Linked DNA regions of Homo sapiens: all the other regions are linked to region 3. The links come from fine-mapping of genetic effects on gene expression. A gene starts in region 3. Each other region holds a variant in brackets. All regions are shown on one strand. Distances are from middle to middle.

What was found.
Region 1: its variant is fine-mapped to the expression of ARHGAP26 in whole blood (TOPMed, PIP 0.93).
Region 2: its variant is fine-mapped to the expression of ARHGAP26 in testis (GTEx, PIP 0.91).

What each region holds. Positions count from the first base shown.
Region 1 is chr5:143,038,364-143,044,630 of GRCh38, reverse strand. ARHGAP26 (Rho GTPase activating protein 26) reads right to left here. Exons shown (of 23, transcript NM_001135608.3): 14 at 2,741-2,815. Among named protein-coding and RNA genes, the nearest start is that of ARHGAP26-IT1, 150 kb to the left of the region's middle. The variant A/T (reference allele first, on the strand shown) is at 3,233.
Region 2 is chr5:143,021,753-143,028,019 of GRCh38, reverse strand. All of the region lies in intron 12 of ARHGAP26 (Rho GTPase activating protein 26), which reads right to left. Among named protein-coding and RNA genes, the nearest start is that of ARHGAP26-AS1, 160 kb to the right of the region's middle. RefSeq lists an enhancer at 6,025-6,114. The variant G/A (reference allele first, on the strand shown) is at 3,231.
Region 3 is chr5:142,766,573-142,772,839 of GRCh38, reverse strand. ARHGAP26 (Rho GTPase activating protein 26) reads right to left here and starts at 2,463. Exons shown (of 23, transcript NM_001135608.3): 1 at 1,925-2,463. The coding sequence starts at 2,078. RefSeq lists an enhancer at 989-1,824 and silencers at 2,120-2,239, 2,250-2,659.

The sequences.
Region 1 (6,267 bases), 270 kb before region 3:
TCCACTGGGTTTCAGGGACTAACCCCGTCCCCACCCCAACTGTCCACCCCATCCCCCACATCCCCCAACATACGCACAGGATCCAGGCCATCTGCCATGGGCCATGTGACTGGTCTGAGATTGAGAAACGAATCATGTGAATGGCCCCATACTGACCAAGCAAAGTCCTCGCTGGAGCCTTCTGCCAACATGGTCAAGAAAGGCACTTTCTTCTCAGTGACCACAGGCTCCAAGGACTGCAGAGGCTGAACCTGTCTGGGACACTCCCACAGAGAACAAAGCCACACCAAGCCCAGAAGAGGTCAGAGAACATGAGAAGCCAGAAGAAGGAAGGGGCAAAGGATCTAGCAAAAGTAAAGACATCATTGGCATCCCTGACTCTGCCATGCTTCTGTCTTGGATTTACCAGTTATATGAGCAAATAGATGCTTTTTTTTTCCTTGTAAACTATTCTGAATTGTCTTCTTGACACTTTTGTGTGCAAAAGCATTATAATGGATATAATCCCACTATTGAGAACTTTTAATAGTTTCTTACTTCCTATAGAAAAAACCCCAAACACCTTGGCTCAGTATTCAAGTTCCTCAACAAAAAAGACCACCTTAGCTATTCAGCTTTAAAACTCTCCTGTCCCAGCCTCAAGTTAAGTCTTTCAGAAATATTAAAATAATAATCATAGAATCAATACCCTTTGCTGTAGCCACCATAGACCCTTTGTTCAGAATACTTCATGAATTGGAATTATTCTTCTACTCTCTCCTTCACTACACTACTCAATCTTCTAGACCCAGCACAGATTAAGCATGAATATCATACTTTACATTACAGCTTTCATATACACACATATTTCACCCTATCAGGACTCCTTACAGAAAAGGAACAGCTCTTTCTAAAATTTAATCTCTAGCACCTGACATCTGTTCTAAGCAGCAGACACCCCACAAATGTTTGCAGCTCTGGTCAGAAATGAAAAACTAAGGATTGACACCTATTAGACTCTTAATTCTTCCTTATATTAGAAATTCTCAAAAATTGACCCTATCGCCATACAACCCAGCAATTTGCACACTCGGACATTTATCCCAGAGGAACAAATATATGCTCACACAGAAACTATATATGAAAATTTATAGAAGCTTTATCATAATTGCCCCAAACTGGAAACAACTCAGGTGCCCTTCAATAAATGAATGGTTCGACAAAGTGCAGTACATCCATACAATGGAATATTACTCAGCAATAAAAAAGAACTATTAATACATGGAACAGCAAAAATAAATCTTGAGAAAATTACACTGATTGAAAAACAATGCCAATCCCAAAAGGTTCTGTATTGTATAATTCCATTTAAATAATAATCTTGAAATGACAAAATTATAGAAATAGAGAACAGATTGCTGATCGCCAGGGGTTAGGCACAGGGTGCAAGGTGGGAAGTGAGGTATGTGCTTGTACAACATCACAAGGAATCCTTTTAGTGATGGAAGTGTTCTGCATCTTGACTAAATTAATGCCAATATTTTGGTTGTGATATTAAAATTGTGTTTTGCAAGATGTTACCTTTAGAGGAGACTGAGTAAGTGGTACACAGGATCTCTATATTATTTCTTACAACCGAATGTAAATCTACAATTATCTCAAAATGAAAAGTTTAATTTTTACAAAAACTAACCATATTTCAAATCTTAACCAAAAAAAACCCAGATACTCGTTGCTAGAGTACCTCGCAAATAATCATAGTTTTAAACAACAGATCTCACTCTAACTAGCAATACAATAGGGTTTTGGCTACAAGAAGTGAATGACTCTCTCAAAAAGAGGTGAAGACAGTCATTCTGGCCAACATGAGAGAAGAGATTTCTTTACACAAGAAAGCTATTTTCAGAAAGTGGGATGGCAAAAGAAATTACAAATACTAACACAAGAACTGTCCCTGTCCAAAACACTGAGCTGCGTACCCCAAGTGATAGTCCCTCTCTACAAGCCAGGGCTTCCATGGGGAGGAATAACAGCCTCTGTGAAACCTGATCTGTTTGCCATTTAGGTCCATGTGATTCATGGAGGCTGGCTGCACTCATATCTAAAAATACAGGAAATCTGCAGCCTAAGCAAATTTGGCTCATGGACTCATGGGCTTTTGATTCAAATACTGCACATTTGGAGACACTGCTTTGTATTTATATCAGCCAGTGGCAAAGGAGGTTCTGCTGCTCAAGTGACAGGTATTCGGTTGAAATCTAGAAGCAAAGAGGATCAGAAGATTTCTCTGGTTATATATATTTTATCTGAGAGTTACATGACACCTGCTCAGTATCAGGAACATGAACTCTGAGGTCCTCTGGAGCCCAGAATGATGCCTTTCCTTGGGCATTGGGTGTGTCCCACTAAATACCTGTCCCAAAAGAGAACGGAGGGAGTCATAAGCTATTAAAGACAGAGTAGGGTGTGGTGGTCACATGAGTGACTGAGTGCCACTTGGACCAGAGCACTGAGCCTACAGACAGAGAGGGTGTGGTGTCTGGGCCCTGGCATTTTTTATTTTGTCCAGTCCTACTCAGAACCTTTCCCAGCAGTGTCTGAAGCCATGACAACTGACCGATGGGGCAGATGACTTCTAGGTGACAGCTCACGGACACCCCGATTCCTTTGCCACAGGCTGTATCTACTCACAGACCTGGTGACTTTTCAGAGTGGGCCCCCCATCCAGGGACCTGCCTAGCAGAGCCACTGCGGCACTCACCCATCAGGACACTCAGCAACTTCTGCACTCTGGAGTTGACACCCACAATTCGATACAGCCCTTGCTCGTTGATCCCTGAGGAAAGAAACAGTGATGATTTAATTAGAGGCACGTCAGAACACAAGTCAGGCCAATCCAGCCAAATGCACTTTTTTTTTTTTTTTTTTTCATTTTCTCAGTCCTCCTAAAAGCTGCTCTAATTAAAGTCCCCTGTCACTCAGCTCAGCTCTTAGCAAACGAGTGGGATTTGGTACAGCTGTCTAGGATTTCACGGATGTGCTGCACACTTCAGCCCTCATGTTAGTTCAGTCATCAGCGGCGAAAGAAGCTTTCCTTTCTCTTGCCAAAGGCAGCATCTGAAGAGTTCTAAAAGATGCAAAATGTACACTTTTAAATATGTCATATTTAACCAATTTTTAAAATTAAAATGCCAAAAATGACATTAAAAATTCATACAACAGAAAAAGACACTTTATAATCTATTTTTACACA[A/T]AAAATGAAAATACGGAGGTGTAAGAATGTTTTTAATTTTAAGGAATGTTAGCCAAGACTGAGAAATTAGAAGATCCATTCATTTATAATACAAATATTCTTTATCAAAAAAGACCACCTTTATTTCAACCCAAGGAACTGTACAATTAGACTAGTAAGGGTTTACTTTTAAATTAAACATCTAAACAAAAAATCAAAAACTAATCCACTGCAGTGTTTCTGTTCATTTAAATACATGGATTAGATCACCACTGTACCATTTACAAAAGAAGGCAATTTAGACCAGGTGACTTGAAATGATTTTTCTCCTATTAGTTCCAGGCCCATCATATCTGACCCCTCTCAAGTAATAGAGCTCCAGCTTCCTATTTTATTCCTCTGATGTCCATTCTTCAACCAGTAGCCAAAGTGAACTGTCTAAAGTGCAAATTAGTTCATATCACCTCTTCTCTTAAAACCCTCCAATAGCTTCCCATTGCACTTAGACCATAATCAAAACTACTTACAATGGCCTATAAGGCCTATACTATCGAGCACTGACTACCTCTGATTGCATCATTGACCACATGCATTCTGCTCCACACACTGGCCTTCCTGTCACCTCAACATGCCAAGCTCATGGCCCCACCTCATAGCCTTTGCTCCAGCTGTTTCCTCTACCTGGACTGCTCTTCTCCCAGAGCTTTTCATCATTCAGATCTCAGCTTAAATGCAACCGCTTCAATCTAATGCAATCCACAATCAACATTACTGGTCATTCCCTTACCCTGTTTTCTTTCTTTATAGCAGTTAACAATATCTGAAATTATGTTTGTTATTTGATTATTTACTTGTTTTTTCTGTTACATTCTCAATAGAATGTAAACAGTAATTGTGTCCTGTTCACCATTACATCCTCAGTCCCTGGATCAGTATATGGTACATGATAATAAACAAAACACGAGATTATACTCCATCAAGGCCAGTATAAAATACTTGGGGGCCAAAACACAATCTTCCAAAAGAAACTCAGGAAAGGACCAATTCTGCAGTACTTTCAACAAGACCTATGTAGACATGGAACTAATGAATAAAAAGAAGTGGTCTGGAATGATAGAATTTTACAGCTAAAAAGGACCTGTAAAATCATGTACATCATTCTGCATGATTCACGGACTAGGAGTCCCTGGTCAAAAACTTCAAAAACTAAGTGATGGGTCCCAAGTTACTCAGTGGCAGAAACTTGATTCAGTAACATGTCAGCTTGTGGGCTTGAAAAGTCTTAAGTGTCTCTACTTCTTCTATCCTTGTGCTTTCCCGGGACTTTACACAATCCCACCTCCCACTGGACAATTGTCAAATCCCAGAGAGTATGGGAAGTCTGTTCATCTCTGATCACCATAAATACGTATGCACATACACACACTGCAATCGGGAGATACCCACTTTTTTCAACTATTTACGCTAAAATGGCACCTAACTCATACTGTCCTTATTTCTTCTTTGTGCTCAATGAAGACTTTCGTAGAAGTTAAAATACATCATTTCCATTTTCATTTTAGAGGGGGAAGAGGAACTTGTACACCTCTTCTTCTCCTACTTATTGTATTTATTTTGTAGTTTTACATCAGAAAAAGTTGTCCTCCTGAGCTACCAGTTTGCATTTACTACAGACTCTGTGAACAGTTTTAAATGATTAGGTTTCTCTCTTGATTTTGGCTGCTGAAGACTGAGAGACGAATAGGTGGCCCAGCTCAAGCAAGTATATGAACTTTACTGGGGAAAGAGATTTTTTTTTTTTAGACTCGCTTTTGGCTCCATTTTTGTGCCTCTACCTTTAAACTCTGTACATTTTATTCTCGGTCTTTTCTTTTAAATTTAAAAAAAAAAATTAAAACTCCTGTTGAAAGTTAGACCGTGCACAGTGGCTCATGCCTGTAATCCCAGCACTTTGGGGAGGCCAAGGTGGGCAGATCACTTGAGGTCAGGAGTTGAAGACCAGCCTGGCCAATGTGGTAAAACCATCTCTACTAAAAGTACAAAAATTAGCTGGGCATGGTGGCAGGCGCCTGTAATGCCAGTTACTCAGGAGGCTGAGGTAGGAGAATCGCTTGAACCTGTGAGGCCAAGGTTGCAGTGAGTAGAGATTGAGCCACTGCACTCCAGCCTAAGCAACAGAGCAAGACTCTGTCCCCTCCAAAGAAAAAGAAAAAAGAAAAATTACCTTAGTAATGAACACTTCAAAAAAACTTAGAAACTACAGTTAAGGTAAATAGATGAGTCAAAGGGAAACAGTAAAAATCAGCAGACAGCCACTGAGAACACAATGAAACCTGTGCAATATGACCACTCCTCTCCCCACTGCTCCCAGAACGGGCTCATACTGAGCAGCTGCTTTGTAACTTGCATTTTTCACGTATTATAAATAATTTTTAAAATGCCATATGTCTGTAATCCCAGCACTTTGGGAGACCGAGGTGGGTGGATCACAAGATCAGGAGATCGAGACCATCCTGGCCAACATGGTGAAACCCCATCTCTATTAAAAATACAAAAATTAGCTGGACGTGGTGGTGTGTGCCCGTAATCCCAGCTACTCAGGAGGCTGAGGCAGAAGAATCCCTTGAACCAGGGAGTTGGAGTTTGCAGTGAACCGAGACTGCATTACTGCACTCCAGCCTGGGGACAGAAAGAGACTCTGTCTCAAAAAAAAAAAAAAAAAAAAAAAAAAAAAAGGCCGTATGTCAAAAAATGTATTTCCATTGCATTGTCAGTGATTCACAGTTTTTTACTACACAGATGTACCACTGTTGATTTAACCCATTTTTGAGACATTTGGCCCGTTTCTGATTTTGTACCTTAACATCACCACGGTGTAAACATCCTTATGGCTCAATCTGGCCCATATCCTTATTTCCTCAAGACCAATTCCCAGAAATGTCACCTACTTCTACTTTATATTCTCTGGATATATCTTACATACCTTTACAAGATGCCTTAATTCTTTATTTAAGAGAGGTACAGGGGAAATAACTGAACATTTTAAAAAATGTTTC
Region 2 (6,267 bases), 260 kb before region 3:
GACAGTCAGAAAGGAACTGGGGGCTGTGGATCAGGTTCTGTGGATCCTACCATTTCTATTCCAGTAGCGGCTCTCAACTCCAGTGAACAAGAGTGCACTTGTAGAAATGCAGATTCTGGGCCCTCTCCCGGCAATTATGCATCAGTACATGCGAGAACCCCACTTGGAAAAACACTGTACTATATACTAAGCAATTAAGATTATTACCACCAAAAACAAACAAAAATGACTTAATTTAGTCAATTGCCAGTATCTATACCACATTCCCTGCTGGACAACAACTATTTGCCAGTGCTATGCATCTTAATATGGAATGCTGGATTGTTCCACTTTGGCATATGGGATGATTCCAAGAGGTTCACAAACATTTCTCAGTTATACTTTTATTTTAATGAATATTAGAAATCTACTGATTTATCACACATAGCAAAATATATTTCTTTTTTAAATAAACTGAGGTAAAAAATGGATGAATTGGTTTAAAACCAGTAAGCAAATTAATAATAAAAGTAGTATATGTATATATTTAAAAAGTCAGCCAGGTGCAGTGGCTCATACCCAGAATCCCAGCACTTTGGGAGGCCGAGGCAGGTGGATCACTTGAGGTCAGGAATTCGAGACCAACCTGGCCAACATGATGAAATCCTGTCTCTACTAAAAAAAAAAAAAAAGAAAAAAAAATTAGCTAGGCATGGTGGCAGGTGCCTGTAATACCAGCTACTTGGGAGGCTGAGGCACGATAATCACTTGAACCAGGAAGGTAAAGGTAGCAGTGAGCCAAGATTGTACCACTGCATTCTAGCCTGGGTGACAGGGTAAGACTCCATCTCAAAAAAAAAAAAAACACAAAAAATCATGAAGGTGACAGAAATAATAAATTGGGGAGCTCAAGTCCTAATGTGTCCCCAAACATGCACTATGTTCAACCTGGCTGAAAGAATGAGATGGGAGAGGACCATATTCTACCTGTAAGATATTCTGTTCCAGTAACATCATCCTTGATCTTTGCTTTCTCTCACACCCTATATCCAATTCACACACCACATCCAATCCATTAACCAATCCTGTCACTAATAACTTAAAACCGTATCCAGAATCTAACTACTCTTCACCATATCCATTGCTAATACCTTGATCCAAGCTGCCATCATCCTTTGCCTGGACTGCCTGCAGCAGTCTCCCAGCTGCTTCAATTTTGCCCCCACCCCCCACCCCCACCCACCCCACTACGGTTTATTCCCCACCAGCAGCCAGAGTCATCTTTTAAAAACATACATCAGCTCATGTCATGCACCTGATCACAACTCTCCAGTGACTTCTCTTCACACTAAGAATGCAGTCTTATCTCCTGGCCCCACATGGTCTAGCCCCAGCCTACCTGACCACTCACCCCCAGGGCCTCCTCCCATCCGGGCACCACTGTTCTTCCTGATATTCCTAGAACACAAGTAGCTCACGTCACCTCAGGGCCTCTGCACATGTTGGTCACTCCATCAATAACACTCATCTACCCACTCCTGACACGCTTCCCTCCCTCCCTTTGTTCAGATTTCTTCTCAAATGTCACCTCTTTAGAGAGACCTTTCCTGCTCCAGGTATCTAAAATCACTCCCTTCTCCCTTATCCTCTATCCACCAGCCCTTATTTTTGCAGAATACTCATCTCTACCAGAAATTATACCTTTATCTACTTGCTTACTCTTTGTTGTCAATTTCTTTTCATTGTATATGCTCCATGAGAGCAGAGACAATCTGCCCTGTTCATGACTAATCTCAATAAATATGTCCTGAAAGAATAAATACAATCCATGTTTTCACCAGCTGAAAACACAAGGAGCCGACAGGCCAAAAGTCTCCACATTCCAGGAGCCTTGAATAGTGACAGGTGGCTGCATATATTGGTACCTTCTAGAGTTCAGGCCCCTGCAGTGGGAAGCATGAGACAAACAGGTTTGACAGAGATCTCATTCATACCCTGACCTCAAAGCAAGAATACTGCTAGTCAGACTTTTCTTCCCTAGCCTACCAGATACAAAGGCATCTATTTTTTTTTCATTGTTTCTTGAAAACAAACACACAGAAAAATAAGCTGAAAGAGACATAGAGTAAAGTAAAATAGGTAGCAGGAACAGAAACAAAAATCTGCCTGGATGGGAATAAACCTACCAGCTCTCAGCCACAGTCAGGGGAGGTTCTAAAGAGTGTTCCAATTCTTGGCAAAAGACAGGCATCCAGGGTGACAGCACGTAGGTTCTTGCACAGCACAGGCTGAGGACTATACATCTGCCTGGGATGGAAGGAGTGTTTCTTTGTGGGTTTCTACTTCTGCAATCTCCTAGTCCACCTTAAAATTCCAAATCAGAATAGCAGCAAAAGAGCAAGGCTTAATGCACACTGCAGTAACACTGACCAGCTTAATCAGGACCATTTGTCTCCTACATGGGGATCTGGACATTCTGAGAATGAATTACACAGTGGCCTCAATTCCCTTCTGCCTTAAGGCCCGGTGGTTTTGCACTGATTTCTCAACCGAAAGAGATCATCATCAGCTTTCTGAGGGTGGAAGTGTTTCAAACAGAGAACCAACTGCCTCTGCCCATCAAGGTCACTTTCCTGCCTTTACCTATCTGTCTTCTTACCTCGAAATGCTTTAAGAACAATTTGTTGGTCACAACAAACTCTGAGGCAGCGAAGGGCAGGGAAAGAGAGGGCATTCAGAATCAAAGGCCTAAGATTTGAGCCCTGGTGTCTCCACAAACTGCTTGTGTAAGCTGGGCATACTTCACCTCTCTGACCCATTCCCCTCACATATAAGATGCAGGTGTTGTGAAAATCAAATAAGGCAATGCCCGGAGGAACTTTAAAGAGACTGTACAGTGCCACGTTTTTATATAAACGGGCTCTGGCTTTGGATAATGATGACATTATTGGTAATAAGAATAAAGCGCAACATTTAATCATTGCCGATAATACCAGGCACCATTGAGCAAAGGATGTCCATCCTAATCTCATTTATTCTTCCAAAAAAACCAAAGATTTAATTATTAAAACTATTCCCACCTTCAGACAAAGAAACTGAGGCTTGGAGAAATTAATTTCTCAAAATCACACACTCAGTAATTCTTGAGGCTGGGATTTCAAACCACGTGTGGAATACTCCAGAGCTAACACTTCTAAGCACTACTCTACCCTCTGCTCAATCTTACATGCCGATTGTGAGCTGCAGGCTCT[G/A]ACAACTCTGATCAGTGCAGGGAGTGACCAAGTTTGCCCTCAGAATGAAGTCTCAGTTTTCACATCTGTAAATGGGGTCAATAATAGTATCTAGCTCATAGGGTTCTTAGGAGGATCAAATGACATAACGTATATCAAGCAGTGAACATGTTGCCCACTCCCCAGTATGTACTCAATAAACATTAACCACAATAACTGGAAGCCTGTACTCGGTGGCAGTGGGGGAAATATTTTAGTCTCTGTCTCAATAACCCCTTGCACTGGGCTTTAGGGGTTAAAGATGTAGCCAGGGACCTGCTCACTGTCTCTTGGCTGAAGCCCAAACTGGGATGGCAACGGGTGGCTCACACCTGCTCAGGCTGCAGCCTGCTGTCAGTACAGAGCCCACATCACTGAGGGAAAGGGGAATATTAGGCCATGGCAGAGGCATACACTGGCTGCATCTGCCAGTCTAAAGCTAGCTGAGAGAGAGGGTAGATTTGTCAAGTGTCTTTTAGGACAAGCAGAAAGGCTTCTGATTATCCATGCAAGTCCAAGGAGTACCACCACCAGTCATAGCTTTGGGGGCCAGGGTCTCATCAAACAAAATAGCTGGGAACTCAAATAATAAAATATCTGCAAAAACAAGCTGTTCCTGCCCCTTCTTCTCTCTCCAGCCCCCTGCCCTCCGAGCCAGGGCTATTCTAGAGCTGGGGTATTACAGCTCAACTAAATGTAATTCAAGCTCAATGCACCACAGCAACTGTGTTGCACAGGCAACTCATAATGAAAAGTGAGGTGTAGAAAGTCAGCACCTAGGGAGAGCTAGAATTATACCACCTCGCCTGACTGCGGCTCAGAAGATGAAAGTGGTGGCCACGGAAACTGCATGCACAGGAGAGAGGAGAAAGGGGAAAGAAAAAGGGTGTGGGGAGGAGGGCAGGAAGGAACGCAGGCAAGGGAGGGAGGCAGAGTGTCTGTCCTCTATCAGCTCAGACCTGGCAGGCCTGGAGAGAAAGCTGGAGGGGATGCTGCACTCAGCTGACTGCCTCGTGGGCCAGTGCATAGGCGGCCAGGCCACTGTGCCCATTAATGCCTTCCACCCTTCTCAGGTTTAAAAGGGGAAATGTTCTATTTATAAGCCACCGACCAGCAGAGGCCTGGCAGCCTCTGGATGGTTCTGATCCCAAAAGGATCCTGGTTACCGGTGGCTGCCTCCTCCTGCCTCTCAACTGTGGGTGTTCTAACAGCAAAAGGCCAAAGGTGACTAGAAGCAAAAGAAAAACAAATCCTCTTTTCTGCCCTCTGCTGCTTTCATGAGACGGTGGATTTTTGGTAATGGCTGAAGGCTTTAGATGTCTTTTAAAAATAGTGGCCCAGGCGATCCCATCAAGGCTTTCCCTACAGTTTTCAAGCCTAAATCTCCTTTTCTGTTTTACAGATCAAGGGAGGCTGAGGAACAGAGATGAAGGAAATGTACAGTCAGAGGCACAACAATAGGAAACAGAGCAATGGTAATGATGTCCCTCCCCATCTCCTCTCCTGGTCCTCAATCTTGTCCTCATAAAACAAGGCAAACCTGAATAAAACGCCATCAGGGAGTTTGCTCTGAATGACGGCCTAAAGAAGGATGAGTGGATGTACAGAAACAACATATAAAGCATTATGTTGTGTTGCCAAATCCCTGTGGGAGAGTGGTGGGCCACACTAAGGGTCTGACCCTGGGGAAGCCAGTCAGTGAAATGCGTGACCCTTGTGCACCCAGCACTGTGCACAGGTGTTTGAGGAACCACTGAGGGCTCTAATGAGGTGGTGCACTAAGAAGGAATATGGGATGGCCCCTCAGCCACAAAGAACTAGAGGGGTTAGATGTTGGAGTCTGATGATGAAATTCCTTCCAGCCCCCATGGGTGGACCACATATGAACAGGATGGCAGAATGGATCAAAGATTTCAAGCATATGAAGTGTTGCAGGAAAAAAATGACCCTGGCAATGAGGCAGGCTAGGGTTTGAGTATGAGCTTCACTACTTCTCAACTGTGCTCCCTTGACCTCTTTAAGCCTGTGAGCTCCTTTGGAAACTCAGTTGCTGTGAACAGCATTTGTACAAATGGCAGCCCATCGTGTGACACTTTCATGCTCCCTCTCAAAACCTCATGCCATCCCATTTAGACTAATTTTAAAAACTTAGCCTTGTGTTAAGCCAAGGGTTAATAAACTACAGTCCCTGGGCCAAATTCACCATTGCCTGTTTTGTAAAACAAAGTTTTACTGGAAAACACCCACACCTGCTCATTTCCATATTGTCTGTGACTGCTTTCACACTACCATAGCGGAGTTGAATACTCCTATAAAAATAAAAATATTTACTATCTGGCCCTTTACTAAAAAAAGTGGACCCCTGTGCTAAGCAATAACATTTGTAAAATCAGGGGATTGGCCAGGCGCAGTGGCTCATGCCTGTAATCCCAACACTTTGGGAGGCCGAGGCAGGCGGATCACCTGAGGTCAGGAGTCCGAGACCAGCCTGGCCAACATGGTGAAACCCCATCTCTACTAAAAATAAAAAAAATTAGCCAGGTGTGGTAGCAGGCACCTGTAATCCCAGCTACTAGGGAGGTTGAGGCAGGAGAATCACCTGAGCCCAGGAGGCGGAGGTTGCAGTGAGCCGTGATCACACCACTGCACTCCAGCCTGGGTGACAGGGGTCTCAAAAAAATAAATGAAATAAAACAAAATAAAATCAGGGGATTTCAGAGAACTTATGTTCCCCCACAATACACATCAAAATAAATACAGAAGTCTAGATGGTAATTTAAAATATACTCTCTCAAATGACCTAGTGTACCACCAGTGGTGTGCACACCCCACTTTGAGAAATACAGTAACGAGGATTAAATGAATGAACACTCATAAAGCACCAAGACTGAGAAACAGTAGCAGGTTGTCTTCCTCCCTTCAAGAGCAGTGTTACCAATCCAGCTGGCTTTTCCTTTCCAGTGGGTTTTTCCTTTTGTTGTGGGAGTAACTGGCCTGGCCAGATGATAAGAGTAATAAC
Region 3 (6,267 bases):
TCAATGCCAAAATAGAAAACACAAGTCCAAATTCTAGGGCTTGGTGCAAGAGGTTCCATTCCGGGCAAGTGAGATGGGGCAGAAGTCAAGAGCTCTGCACTGGCAGGGACTCCATCTCTGGCTCAAACCAGGTGGATTCAAAAGCTCTGGTCCTGCTGCTAGAGCTGTGTGACTCAGAGGTAATGCTTCCCCCAGTCTCTGTTTTCTCATTTGCAGAATGAATCTAAGCACATGAGATAATTATATGTGAAGCAGTGCCTGGAATGAAGTACACCTCTGTAAGCACAGGAGCAGCAAAATATTCACTCCTACACCCTTAGTGCCCAGTGCAGTACCCAGTACACCACAATCACACCAAAAGTTTGCTGAGTGAAGCAGAGAACTCACTAAAGCCAGCCTGAGGTTCAATCAAAATTCCTGGGCCCAACCTGTAAGTGGGCCCCTAACTTACTCCAAACCAGGGACCCCCATCCCCTAAACCAAGAATGGCCTTGATTATTGACAAAGGAAGGGTCTGTTCATATGTTTCAGGTAAGGCACAGCCTAAGAATCTGCCTCTAAGAAGCCTCATCACATCACAGTCCTGTGTTCATTTCATCCCAAAAGATTGGCACTTTGGGCTGCCCTGGCATTCCATTGTCTCTCTCTTCATTTTTAGAAGCAACAAGCTGACAAAATGACATCTCAGGCACCTGACTTTTGTAAGTGCCCTTTAAAGAGGCCTGGGAACAATTCCCACAGCTACGACTCTACTCTGCTAAGGCAAGATTTCTTAGCTGAAAGGTATCACCTACTAAGAAATCCATCACAGAAACAGATACAGTAACAGAGTCAGAGACAATTCCACTATCTGCCTTCATGTGGTTCCTGATTCTTAAAACTAAAAGATGGACTGAGCTATTTTTAAATGGGGAGACTGAAAAGGCACCAAAAACGTTCTCACAATCCAAAGCACTCATCCCTAGAGCACGCTTATTTGGCCAGAAAAAGAAACTCTCTGGCTCTGCAAAAGTGAAGCAGAATGCAAAATTGCATCTCTCCCCTTGTACCAAAAGGAAAAAACGCAAAAATGGTTTTACAAAAGGTCCAAGAATCTTTGAAATACGTTTGAACTTCTTTCTGAGAATTATGGATATTCCTTCTCAGACCTTTACAAGGATAACGGAAGAGGTAAAAAGGAGAGCTTGGGAGCAGGAGAGGGAGAGAGTTGGGATATGTACATTCTATTTTTAAACCCTCGCCCACAGTTTAGAGTAAAGGAACACTCTGATTCTCTACTCCCACCCCTATCACCTTCTGCTAAACACAAGAATCAGAACCTGCGCACGTACTGATTCCAGATTTAGAGATTACTGGCTGCCAATACTCCAAGGAATCGCAAGCTAACCAAGCATTCCACCCAGGGAACCCGGCGGCCTGACTAGGCTGGAGCTGCGTACAGGGAGCGAAGCAGTCACAACCCACCTTTTCCCAAGGGGAGGCAGCGCCCCCTCGGCAGGGCACGCTCCATTCTCACGGTTGGGCACTCAAGGCTGAGCAACTCTGCCCCTAAGGGAGCTGGAGCTGTGGACACGATGGGATCTGCCCGCTGGCTGCGGCGCGCTCGGCACTCTGGCCCCACTGCTGGGACACCTGCGTGCCGCGCACGCCCACGCCCACCCGCGCTGCCCCAGAGCACCACCCGCGCTGGGTCACCTCCCGACCATCCCTGAACGCAAAAGGCGGAGCGACGGGTCTCTCTCTTCATCTGATGGTTGCTGGTTCGCCCGCTTTACGTATCCTTCCTGCCTCGGAGGCGTCGACACCCGTCCCCCAGTGTACCGGGAGCAGAAACCCGGCAGACGCGCGGGCAACCCGGGCTAAGCGCCACCTCCCAGTTCCTCCCGCCCCGGAGCCGCGTCCCCGAGGGGCTCGGGACACTCACTCTTGAGCGCGCTTATGAGTGACTTCCCGTCCTTGATGAGCTCCTTGATGAATTTGTTGGTCTTGTCCAGCTCTGCTTCGTGCGACTTGAGCGTCTCTCGGAAGTGCGGACTATCGAGGCAGCAGTCGCTGAACTCGAGCGCTGGGAGCCCCATGGTGCGCGCGGCGCCCAGCCGGGGGGCGCGCCTCCGCCGGGGCCCGGGCCGCCCGCCGCCCAGAGCACTCACGCGGCGGGACCCCGGCCGGCTCCCCCGACGGCCGCCGGCTCCACAGGTGTGGCGCTGGCTCACTCCGCGCGCGGTGTCCGCCGGCGCGCAAGACTCCCGAACCGAGCTCGGACCCGGCCGAGGTGCTGCTGTTCCGGGCGCGGGCAACGGAGCGGATCGCGAGCAGGAAACGCAGCGCGGACCCGCAGCGGCGCCGGGAAGCGAGCGAGCGGGCGAGCGAGTGCAGACGCCGCCTCCCCGCCTCCTTCGCTAGCTAGCTCTCGGCAGCCTCGAGCGCCCTCTCACAGCAGCCTCGGCCGCCCCGCCGGTGTCTGGGCCGCTCGAACCTGCTAGCGATGACTTAATCCCCGCCGGGCCAATCAGCGCACCCTCCCCTGCCCGACCCTCAGGCCGCCCGAGGACGCCCGGCCCTTCCGCGGTCTTGATCCAATCAAAGGGGCCTGGAGGCAGGGTCTGCGGCTGGGGGCGTGGCCCTCGCCAACGCCTAGGTCCGCAGCGCAAACTCCGCCTCCTCTTGCCCTCCCAGCGTTGCAGACCCCGAAACCTAGGGGTGAGCGTTGCTGTGCACCCGCCCCCGCTACCTTGCCCGCCTGCTCCAGCCCGAATCCGAGCCACGCATGGCGAGTCTGCTGGTCCTGGGGGCCGAAGAGCCTCGATGTGCCAAGCATGAAAAACCTGGGGACTAGGGCTGCAGTTCACCACCGCCTGCCCTGCACTGCGGGGCAACCGATTTTACACTCAAAATACAGCCCCCTGCTCCGGGAGAATCCCGAGCGACCAAACGCTCCTCTTCCAGTCAGGCAGAAAAATGTTATTTGCATCTTAAAATTACCAGCTCTTGCCTGCAGTCTTCCCGCCCCCTACGGTCCGTCCCCCTCACGGCCACTCCTGCTCAGAACCCGCCCACGGTTCCCCTCAGCCGAAGGAGCTCACATCATTACTAGAATTTCAGCCGCCTGTTATTTTCCTGCTCTGCATCTAGCACAATTTTACATAATAAGATGACAGTCTACTGCCTGTCATCCTTCGCTACACGGTAAGCCCCACGAGGGCAAGTGCCCCTGCAATTTTCTTGTCCGCTGTTGCATCCTGGCACCTAGCACAGTGGCTGGCATTTAATAACAGATATTGAGCACTTACTATGTGCTGTGTGTGCTACGGTGATTGATAAATGTAGAATAAATGAATGGATCCTTTCCCAGAGCCATCTCCACCTCCCACGCCCAGTGCGTTGCCCTGTAGTCCCTCTGTTCGACCGCAGGACTCAATTCTGGCATCTCACTCGTTGCACTTGTCAGGCTGGGTCCCACAGGGTGTCTAGTGCTGAATTGTTAACTCCTGGAGGATAGGGACTGTCCTTGAATAAATTATCTCTATGTCTAGGAACCAGCAGCCCTCCTTCAGCTACGTGGGGGCTTCATGTTTGTTTGGGTTGGTTTGTTTTTTAAATAGGTCTGCTATGTGCAGGCACTAGCCTAGATGGTAAGAATACAAAGATGAATAACAGAATGAATTTAGCTGCTGGTGGTATTAGGTGAGATGGAAGCAAACAAGCGATAACCATGCCTTGTGATAGGATAGAAGGCCTGGGTGCTTGGGAACATGGATTTTTCACTCAGGAGGGGTCAGAGGTGTCCCATCTATATTAAGAAAGCAATTAATGTATTAAATTCATAAATGGAGCATGGTGGCTCACACCTGTAATCCATAACTTTTGGAGGCCAGGTGAGAGGATTGCTTGGGGTCAAGAGTTCAAGACCATCTTGGGCAACACAGCGAGACCCCCCCCATCTCTACAAAAAATTGTAAAATAAATAAGTAAATGTATAAATAAGTGAATGTGATCTCTTTGATAGGTGTATCTACAAATTTAGACTTGATAGCAGGTCCAGACAGCTATCTGATAGATAATTACAACCCAAAAACAATTGTTCTTCACTTGCCAAAGATGAGAAAGATCTAGAATGGAAACCCTATGAAAGTAAATCTGTTTAATGCTTTATCTTGAGCACCTAAAGGTAGGTGTTCTGGTTATCTATTAATACAGAATAAATGATACCAAAAGTTAATGGTTTAAGACAACAGCAATCATTTTATTTTCTCTCACAATCTCTGTGGGTTAGAAATTTAGGGAAGCCAAAGGCTTGAGGTCTCTCATGTGATTGCAGTTGGATGGTGACAGGAGCTGGAGGAGTGGATGGTTAGCTGGGCATCCCACTTTTCAGGTAGACTCAGGGCTTCTCCATATGGCCTTTCTCTGTGGCCCAGTTTAGGCTTCCTCCCAGTATGGCAGCCTTAAGGCTCCAGTGTGAACATATACAGCTCACAAGGAGAAAGGTGCATCACCTTTTATGACCTAGCCTTGTGAGGTGAGAGGCCTGCAGGACTTGTTTTCCAATCACAACCCCACTGATCAAACCAGGATTCATTCCAAACGGGATTCAGTGAAGCAGCCAGCAGAAACCAGCAGGCAAGGAAAAAAGACACTTTTAGTTGCCCTCACTGCTCATTAGCATAGAGACACTCCCACCATTGCCATGACAGTTTACAAATGCCATTGCAACAGGCCATGGCAATGGCCTGGAAGTTACCTTATATGGTTCTGGAAACTCCCTGCCTCCTTTCCAGAAAGTTCTAAATAACCCACCTCTTAATTAGCATATAATTAAAGGTAGGTATAGGTACAGCTGCCAACAGCCCTGTACACTGCCCATCCTGAGCACACTCCCTATGGGATAGCCCTGTTCCACAAGGAGCAGCACTGATTCAATGAAAGTTGCTTTCTCTTACCACTGGCTTGCCCTTGAATTCTTTTCTGGGCAAAGCCAAGAAGCCTCCTGGGCTAAGCTGCAATTTTGGGCCTTGCCTGCCCTGAATCACTTGGAAGCCACATACTTCTACCACCTTCATTGGCTACAAGCAACTCATAAGCCCACCCAGCTTCAAAGGAAGGAGATTAGACTGTACCTCTTGATGGGGGAATGACAAGAATGGGAGATATTATAGTAGCTATTTCTGAAAAACATAATCTGCCACAGTGGGCCCAGCATAAATGGTAACATTCAATACATGCTAAATGAATGAAATAAAATGTGATCCACAATTATTTGTTTTATCCCATTGAGGAATAGTAGGCAAATGTGTGTAAAATAATATATATGTATTAATAATAACAACAATAATATATCAGCTATCATTTGTTAAGCTCTCAGTTTATGCCAGGCACTATGGTAAATTATTTACATGCATTTATAGCTGGCATAGTGGCACACGCCTTTAATCCCAGCTACTCAGGAAGCTGAGACACAAGAATTGCTTGAGCCCAGGAGGCAGAGTTTGCAGTGAGCTGAGGTCGTGCCACTGCACTCCAGCCTGGGTGACGGAGAGAGACTCTGTCTCAAAAAACAAACAAAAAAATTATTTACATGCATATAATCCCTACAGGGTGAGACTGGTACTATGATAGTTCCCATTTTTTCAGATAAGAAATTGAGGCCCAGAGTTGTAACTTGAACCAGCTTACCGAGATAATATTAATAATTCTATGTGGCACAAACATATAACTTAATATGCCCATTCACAGACAAATATGTAAATATGTGAATAATGTGTAAATTTCTCATAAATTTAATATGGAATTTCCACAAAAAACCTCCCACACTTTCAGCAGTATTACTAGAAAGAGAGAATCAGAATGCAGCAGTACAGGCTGGGTGTGGTGGCCCAAGCCTGTAATCCCAGCACTTTGGGAGGCCTAGGCAGGCAGATTACTTGAGGTCAGGAGTTCGAGACCAGGCTGCCCAACATGGTGAAACCCCGTCTCTACTAAAAGTAAAAAAATTAGCCGGGTGTGGTGGTGAATGCCTGTAGTCCCAGCTACTTGGGAGGCTGAGACTGGAGAATCGCTTGAACTTGGGAGGCAGAGGTTGCAGTGAGCCGAGATCGCACCACTGCACTCCAGCCTGGGTGACAGAGTGAGACTGTCTCAAAAAAAAAGAAGAATGCAGCAGTACAGAAACTGGCGCATGGAGGGTGCAGTTGTCTTTCTCTTCCCAGAAAATCTGCTCATAAGGGTAGAGATTTTGTATTATTCAATGCAGCAACCCCAGCTTAGAAC